2 linked regions of the Homo sapiens genome follow. The protein of the gene in region 1 interacts with the protein of each later gene in a biochemical or structural test. Each region holds a gene or a part of one and is shown on either strand. Other genes may lie near its edges.

Region 1 (3,600 bases):
GCCAGCCCGCCCAGAGCCCAAGACCCCAGCTTTAGTCCCCATTGAGAAGAGCACTGAGGGAGTGACAGAGATGGCCACTCTGGCCCTGCTGCTCAGCCCCCAGCCGGCCTCACTGCAGGAGGAAGAGGTCTGATGGGGAACAGACCTCCTCTGGCTTTCCCATGTGGCCTACTGAGCTGTCTGTCAGCCCCTCCCTCCATCCATCCAAGTCCCTGGGTCCCCTTAAATGGGCTGGAGTCAGGGGCTGTGGAGGTGAGGCCAGGTCTTGGCCAGGAGCCATGCAGAGTGGGCAGGGGCCACATGGGCCTGCCCTGGTCAGCACCTTGGAGAAAAGCTGGGCTACCCAGGCCTCAGGAAGTCCCAGCCAAAGCCATGACCAGGCCCAGCCGCAGTAGCATGTCTGGCTTCTCCAAACACCCTGACCCCTGCCCTGCCCCATCCCCTTGGGGCCCCAGCCTCTCTCTTGCCCTGCTGTTCCTCCCACCCCTTCTCTGCTCCTCCAACCCTTCCACAGGGAGGACCTTGCTGCAACCTCACCCTTCAAACTGCTCTTCAAACTAGCTGGACCCAAGAGAAGTGCCAGACCCCTTCCTTACGGCCCTCCATTCACTGCCCAGAGCACCACTTCTGCCCGCTGGACAGACCACCCCGCTGCCCAGGAAGGGGGCCCAGGCTGCCACCTCGGGCCAGCAGCTCCTGCCCTCTCTCAAGCACCCCATTGTGGCCATCTCCAAGCACCTGCTTCCCCAGGGTCTCCAAGGGCAGAAGAAGAGAGCAGGGAGGTGACTGAGTGAGAGAGATCTTGCTGTCTTGGACTCAGCATGAGTAGACGAGGTGGGTTTCTTCTAGATCTCCGGGCTTTCCCCACCTCCTCTGGGCACAAAACTGTCCAGGCCAACTGTCCCCCTAACAACTTCTTCAGGAGCCCTGATCTGTGTGAGTTTCACCTTGGGGAGCCAGCTAGTGGGCCCAGGAGCTGGGGTCTGTTGGGGGAAGTACAGGGGAGTGGGTGAGGCTTTGTGGGGCGGGAGGCAGGTGGAAGCTGGGGGCGGGGCCACGTAGCAGGAAGACGGGGCACTGGAAGCCAAAGTGGAGCGCCAGGGGAACCCAGTGGTTTTTCTCTTCCCACAGTTCCCACGGGCAGCAGGAACACATTGCATCAGTGAAGCCTCCTCTGTGCCCTGCTGCATGGGCAGCCTGGGTGTCCACACACACCCTCACTGGCACTACTTCCAGCGCTTTCTGGGACAGGAGGAAGGTCAAACTGAATAAACTGCTTTGCCGGGCCCTCCCAGCTGGGGCAGCCAGCATTATTCCCACTTGACGGACAAGGGCGCTGTGACCTGCTACGGGGCACCTGTCCATGCGTGAGTGAGCAGGGACTCGAACTCAAGACTCGGCTCCACCCTCCTTTCTGCTGGTGCTGGCAGACCCGGCATCTTCTAGCTCCTAAGGTTGCCCCTGTTGACCATCCCCTTTGCCTCTGCTCAGGCCACCTGCCAACCCAGCCCCACAGCAGTTGCCTTAGTGGGGTGTGGGTAGCACAGGTGCCCGCAGCCTGGAGGTACAGAGGCCCACCGCAGCCCCAAGTGGACCATCGTGGCTGAGTTTACTCCAAAAGGGGATGTGGACTGGAAAGAACGAAGACCTCCACTTCAGGAGGTGCAGGTGACACCCTGCCCTGTTCCCTCCATAGGAGAGACCCTGGGTGAGTCCCTGGTCCCTCCAGCCCTCAGTCTCCTGCTCTGTAGGCCAGGTCATCTCTGAGGACTTTGTTAGCCCTGGCACTGCCTGGATTTTACGATCCATGACCCTCATCTTGCCATCAGCCTGGCTTTGGGGACTTAAAGAAGGATGGTGGGGACGCAGAGGTGGACACCTGGGGCTCCCTTGTAAGCAAAGGCATACTCCATTTACAGCTGACACTTTTGGCAGGATGAGGGGTGTGGCTGTCCCTGGAGTTGATGTCTGGAGGCTCTGAAAGACTCAGCCCACCCTTCTGAAGAAGCAGAGCCAGCTTCAGGCTGTCCTGCACCTCACCAGCTGCCCATCAGGCCTGGCTCCCACCCCAGCAGCAGTGCCTCCCCGCCTCCTCCAGCCAGCAGGGACCCCAGCCCAGACAAACCTGGGGCTTGCAGTGAGTCATGCTGACGGGGCGGGGACAGAACCCAGTTTCCCACCATAGCAACTACAATTCCGCTCAACCTTCAGGGCTTTCCAGAAATTGCCATTCACGTCTTCCTTCAGCCCTGGTTGAGCCCATGTGTATATAAATACATTTCACTTCTCAGTGCCCCCGTCAGGCCTCTTAGCCACACCAAGGCTGCCATACCCCCACCACCTGCACATCCCCGCTTTGCCATGATGCAGCCCGGGTCACATGGCTGCCCCTCTCTGGCACAGTCTCGTCCTCACCCCCAAATCGCCGGTACACTCCTTGAAGGGCCGGCCACAGTACCTTCCCTCTTCCCTACCCTCCTCCAGCCCCGCATACGCCGTACCTCCCAGCTTGCCACAGGACAGGGGTCGTGAGGTTTCCTGGGTCTCTTGCTCCCCACAGCCCTGCCCAGCAGGGTCGTTGAGGGCATGAGAACACACGGATGTCACCGGAGCTCTGCTGCTCCTGCCTGAGGCCCCTTGGCCGATCCTCTTGGCCTCAGCCTCTTCAGCAGTGAAACAGGGACTCATAAAGACAGCTGTGTGTCTGGATTTTGAAGTCACCAGGCAGGACAGCGATGTGAGAAGGCTTCACTGTCTCCCGAGAGGTGTGTGTCCACAGTGGTGACTGCTGTCTCCATCTGCCGTGTTTCTGCGGCCCCTCCAGACCCAGCACAGGCCAGGGAAGGCAGAGGCCCTCCACACACCTGGTTGTTGGTCTGTAAAATCTTGATGGGCTGAAGGGAAAAAACATTCCTGCGCCCTGATCCTCAGGCCCTGGAGCACACCTCCAGGCTTGGAGAGGGGTGTTAGGACAAAGTGAAGGACTCCAACATCACAGATGAGAAAAGTCCAGAAAGAACTGTCCTGACAGGCTAAGAACAGAAATTGCTTCAAACAAGGTTGAGATGGGTGGGAGTGGGTTATTAAGGGGTTATCAGGACCGGTTCCCACCTGTGAAGTGTCAGCAGAGACACATCCCCCTTTTGTCCTGGCACAGAGGGTAGGGTGGGGCAGGAGGAGCTAGGTCCCAGCAGCCCTCAAAGCAACTTGCTACCCCAGGAGCAGAGAGGCCTGGGCCTTGCCCCGCAACCAGTCTCAGGCGCTGGAGCCCCGGGCTGGGCAGTCCCTCCAGCCACGTCTCCCCTGTGCCAGAGCTAGAGGGAGAAGGAGGGGGGTCTTTATCCTGGTGGTGCGCCGTCATAATCCTGGGGAGGTCCCGGTCCCATCCGACCCCCAGCAGAGTCACACTAAGGTCCCTGGCTGGGGAGGAAGGATGAGCCTCTCCCTCCCCAAGTCTGGAGGCCCCTTTCTACCCACCCCCAACCCCGGCTGCTGAGAGGTGGGAGAGCAGAATCTGGCAGGGGGCACCTCCCAGGCTGAAAACATGCAAACTAGCCAGGAGAAGGAGCTTGGCATTAAATGTCAGGAAGAGCCCAGGGC
Region 2 (4,107 bases), on another chromosome or scaffold:
CAATCTAGACACAGCTTTAGTGTGTTAAATCTGCCTTTAATGTCAACTGAATATTAGAATACATTTTGGGCTCACCTGCGACATTTGGAAGTACAAAAGAACTTCACCGAAGAAGCGTTGTTCTAATGGAAAAATGAGGGCAAAGAAATTAAATCTCCTTTAAGAAAACCACTTACTTAAAAAAATATGGCTTACATTTTTTAAGCGTTTTATCTCTGCTTTCTCCTCTTGTTCCTTCCTTCGTTTCTTTTCCTGAAGAATTTCATCTAAAGTTTTCACTTTCCAAGAGTCCTTTTCATCACCCATTTGAGTTAAAACACTGCAAAAAGAAAAATAATTCAGCCTACATCAGGACACAGCAAGCTATGGTGCTGAACACTTGAACCTAGTCACTTTTGAGGGATTCAGAATAAATCCTCATTAAGAATAAGAAGTTGTGCCCGGCGCAGTGGCTCAAGACGGTAACCCTAGCACTTTGGGAGGCCGAGGCGAGCAGATCGCTGGAGTTCCGGAGTTCAACACCAGCCCGGGCAACATGGCAAAACCTCGTCTCTACAAAAAATACAAAAGTTAGCCCAGTGTGGTGGCGCGTGCCTGTATTCCTAGCTACAGGAAGGAGGCTGCTAGAGGCAGGAGGATCACTTGAATCAGAGAGGTCAAGGCTGCAATGAGCCAAGACTGCGCCACTGCACTCCAGCCTAGATAACAAAGTAAGACTTGGTTAAAAAAAAAAAAAAAAAAAGGTAAGCTCTAGGCTGAGGCGGGTGGATCACAAGGTCGGGAGGTCAAGACCAGCCTGGCCAACACGGCGAAAACCCTGTCTCCACTAAAAATACAAAACTTAGCTGGGCGTGGTGGCGGGTGCCTGTAATCCCAGCTACTCGGGAGGCCGAGGCAGCAGAATCGCTTGAATCCGAAAGGCGGAGGTTCCGGTGAGCCGAGGTCGCGTCACTGCACTCCAGCAAGACCCCGTCTCAAAAAAAAAAAAAAAAAAAAAAAAAAAAAAAAAAACAAGAATGATAAGTTGTAAGCCAGGCAAGGTGGCGAGCGCCTGTAGTCCCATATACTCTGCAAGCTGAGATGGGAGACCGATTGAGCCCAGGAGTTCCAGGCTGAAGTGCGCTTGTGAACAGCCACTGCGCTGCAGCATGGGCGACAAAAAAGAGTGATGGGTTCTGAAAAATGACCGCTTGAAATCAAGTCTCGTTTCTGTCATTCTTGTATGGTCTTGGGTAACGTAATTCACCTCAGTTCAGTCTTCCGTACAACCAGAATAACAACACCTACGTGATAGTATCGATCGCGGATTAAAGATCATCCGTTTAAAGGCTCTTAACTCAGGACCTGCCACTCATCAAACACTGCTTTTACTGTCAGAATCTGCTAGAAAGACCGCTTGGACTACGTGAAGCCACTAGCACACTGGACAGCTGCACCTTGAGACCGGGGAGATGCTCCGAGATGTGCTCGCGAACAAGGCCACCTGACCCGGGCACTGGGCTATTTCCTCGGGTTCAGTCCCGCACACTTGAGGTTCAGCCTGGCAGACGTTGGCTCCAGACAGCGTTTGGACCCGCCGCCTCCACCACCCAAAGTTCCGTGCGGGATGAGACTGTCCGCGGAAGCGAGGGTGTCGCTCGCCCCCGGGCCCGGGTCCGCCCCGCTCCGAGGCCTGCTCGGAAGAAAGACCTCGGTGCGCAGTTCTCGTCGCGCTCCCACACCTGGTCCGCCCAGTCGGAACTCACCCCTACGGGGCCGCGGCCGGTCCCTGAGCCTGAGAAGAAACAGCAACCGGCGCTCGCCAGAAGTATCCTCACTTCCTGTGTTGACGCCTAATGATGATATAATAGCCGACCTCTGGCCCAGAACTCAAGACGACAGGGGCTCGCTCTGTGCGGCACTTCCTGTGTCTGCGCGGGATGATGACGCATAAAACAGCGCTTGCTCAGGTCCAGGACTCCAAAAGAAACTGCGCCGTGAGCTGCACTTCCGACTTCGGCGCGGGCCGGGGCGCCGAGCAGAGCGACGCCGACTTTTGGAGCAGTTTGCGCCTGCGCGGAACGCGTGGCCGGCTTCCGGAATCCTACCGGGACTTTTCCGGTAGCGAAGCCCGCGCCTGTGCCAAGGCTTGCGAGCAGAATGCCTTCGCGATGGACGCCCGCATTCCACCCCCTTGACCGCTGGGACCCCTAGTGGCGGGTGGGTGGAGCGCGCTCCATTTACCTGCTGGTTACCTCGTGAGGCGCCTCAGGTCTGTGTGTCTTGTAAAGGCCGATCTCGGAATTTAACTCTGAACCTTACTCAGAAACAAAGCAGGGAGAGCTCTTACGATGTGATTTTATTTTATTTATTCATGTATTTACTTTTGAGTCGGAGCCTTGCTCTGCCGCCCAGGTTGGAGTGCAGTGGCGTGGTCTTGGCTCACTGCAGCCTCCTCCCGGGTTCAAGGAATTTTCCTGCCTCAGCCTCCCGAGTAGCTGGAACCACAGGCCCGCGCCACCACGCCCGGCTAATTTTTATATTTTTGGTAGAGACGAGGTTTCGCCATATTGGCCAGGCTGGTCTCGAACTCCTGACCTCAAGTGATCCGCCTGCTTCGTCCTCCTAAAGTGCTGGGATTACAGGCGTGAGCCACCGCGCCGGGCCTTTTACAATGTGATTTTGAAGCTGACACTGGCAGTGGGTCCTCAAAGTGCAGACTCACTGGGTATGGTGCTTCCCCCAACTCCCAGGGCCCCACTCCAAACCCATGGATTCAGAGCATTGCAGGAGAAGAGGATAAAACGAGCAATTAATTCCCTTTCCATATGTCAGGTTTTCCTCTTGCCTTGAAAAGTCACAGAAAAATGCTTTAGACATCTGAATCTCAGGAAACAAACAATGGAAGATAAACATCCGCATTTACTGGGCCTGAAATGGGAAAATGAAAGATGTGGCAAGAAACTGACAAGGGCCCAAGAAGGGCGATGGGTATCGGAATTCTTTTCATCCCGGAATGAAATGCTGCTTGCTTTGTGTACCCAAGCTCTTTTTTTATTTTTATTTTTTTGAGACGGAGTCTCGCTCTGTTGCCCAGGCTGGAGTGCAGTGGCGCGATCTCGGGTCACTGGAAGCTCCGCCACCCGGATTCACGCCATTCTCCCGCCTCCACTCCATTCGCCCGCATTAGGCTCCTGAGTACCTGTGACTACAGGCGCCTGCCACCATGCCCGGCTAATTTTTTTTTTATTTTCGGTAGAGACGGGGTTTTACCGTGTTAGCCAGGATGGTCTCAATCTCCTGACCTCGTGATCAGCCTGCCTCTGCCTCCCAAAGTGCTGGGATTACAGGCGTGAGCCACCGCGCCTGGCCTCCCCCAAGCTCTTAATGTTGCTTCCTGAGTTCTTGGTAACTGGGGAAATCTCCCTATTTTTTTATTTTTATTTTTTTTTGAGACGGAGTCTTGCTCTGTCGCCCAGGCTGGAGTGCAGTGGCGCAATCTCGGCTCACTGCAAGCCCCACCTCCCGGGTTCAACGCCATTATCCTGCGAGCCTCAGCCTGCCGAGTAGCTGGGACTACAGGCACCCGCCACCGCGCCTGGCTAATTTTTTGTATTTTTTTTAGTAGAGACGGGGTTTCACTGTGTTCGCCAGGATGGTCTCGATCTCCTTACCTTGTGATTCGCCCGCCTTGGCCTCCCAGAGTGCTGGGATTACAGGCGTGAGCCACTGCGCCTAGCTATTTTTATTTTTTCTGATAGGGAGACTCGCTCTGGCCCAGGCTGGAGGGCAGTGGCGGGATCTCCGCTCATTGCAAGCTCCGCCTCCTGGGTTCACGCCATTCTCCCGCCTCCACTCCATTCTCCCATCTTAGGCTCCAGAGTAGCTGGGCCACCATGCCCGGCTAATTTTTTGTATTTTTAGTTGAGACCGGGTTTCACTGTGTTAGCCAGGATGGTCTTGATCTCGTGACCTCGTGATCTGCCTGCCTTGGCCTCCCAAAGTGCTGGGATTACAGGCGTGAGCCACAGCACCCTGCCCTTTTTTTTGAGAAATAAGTCTCACTGTGTCACCCAGGCTGGAGTAGAGTGACACAATTTTGGGTAACTGCAGCTTCCACCTCCCAGG

Evidence for each region.
Region 2: the proteins of SPDEF (region 1) and CDK11A form a complex in vitro, tested with the Homo sapiens proteins (one study listed by BioGRID).

The regions. Positions count from the first base shown.
Region 1 is NC_000006.12:34,549,730-34,553,329, forward strand, and holds part of SPDEF (SAM pointed domain-containing Ets transcription factor), read right to left. Parts: exon of another isoform or gene 2,689-3,600; coding exon of another isoform or gene 2,502-2,688; intron 1-2,501. UniProt on the Homo sapiens protein: May function as an androgen-independent transactivator of the prostate-specific antigen (PSA) promoter. Binds to 5'-GGAT-3' DNA sequences. May play a role in the regulation of the prostate gland and/or prostate cancer development.
Region 2 is NC_000001.11:1,722,513-1,726,619, forward strand, and holds the start of CDK11A (cyclin-dependent kinase 11A), read right to left. Parts: upstream 1,846-4,107; 5' UTR 1,746-1,845; intron 320-1,745; 5' UTR 307-319; coding exon 196-306; intron 1-195. UniProt on the Homo sapiens protein: Appears to play multiple roles in cell cycle progression, cytokinesis and apoptosis. The p110 isoforms have been suggested to be involved in pre-mRNA splicing, potentially by phosphorylating the splicing protein SFRS7.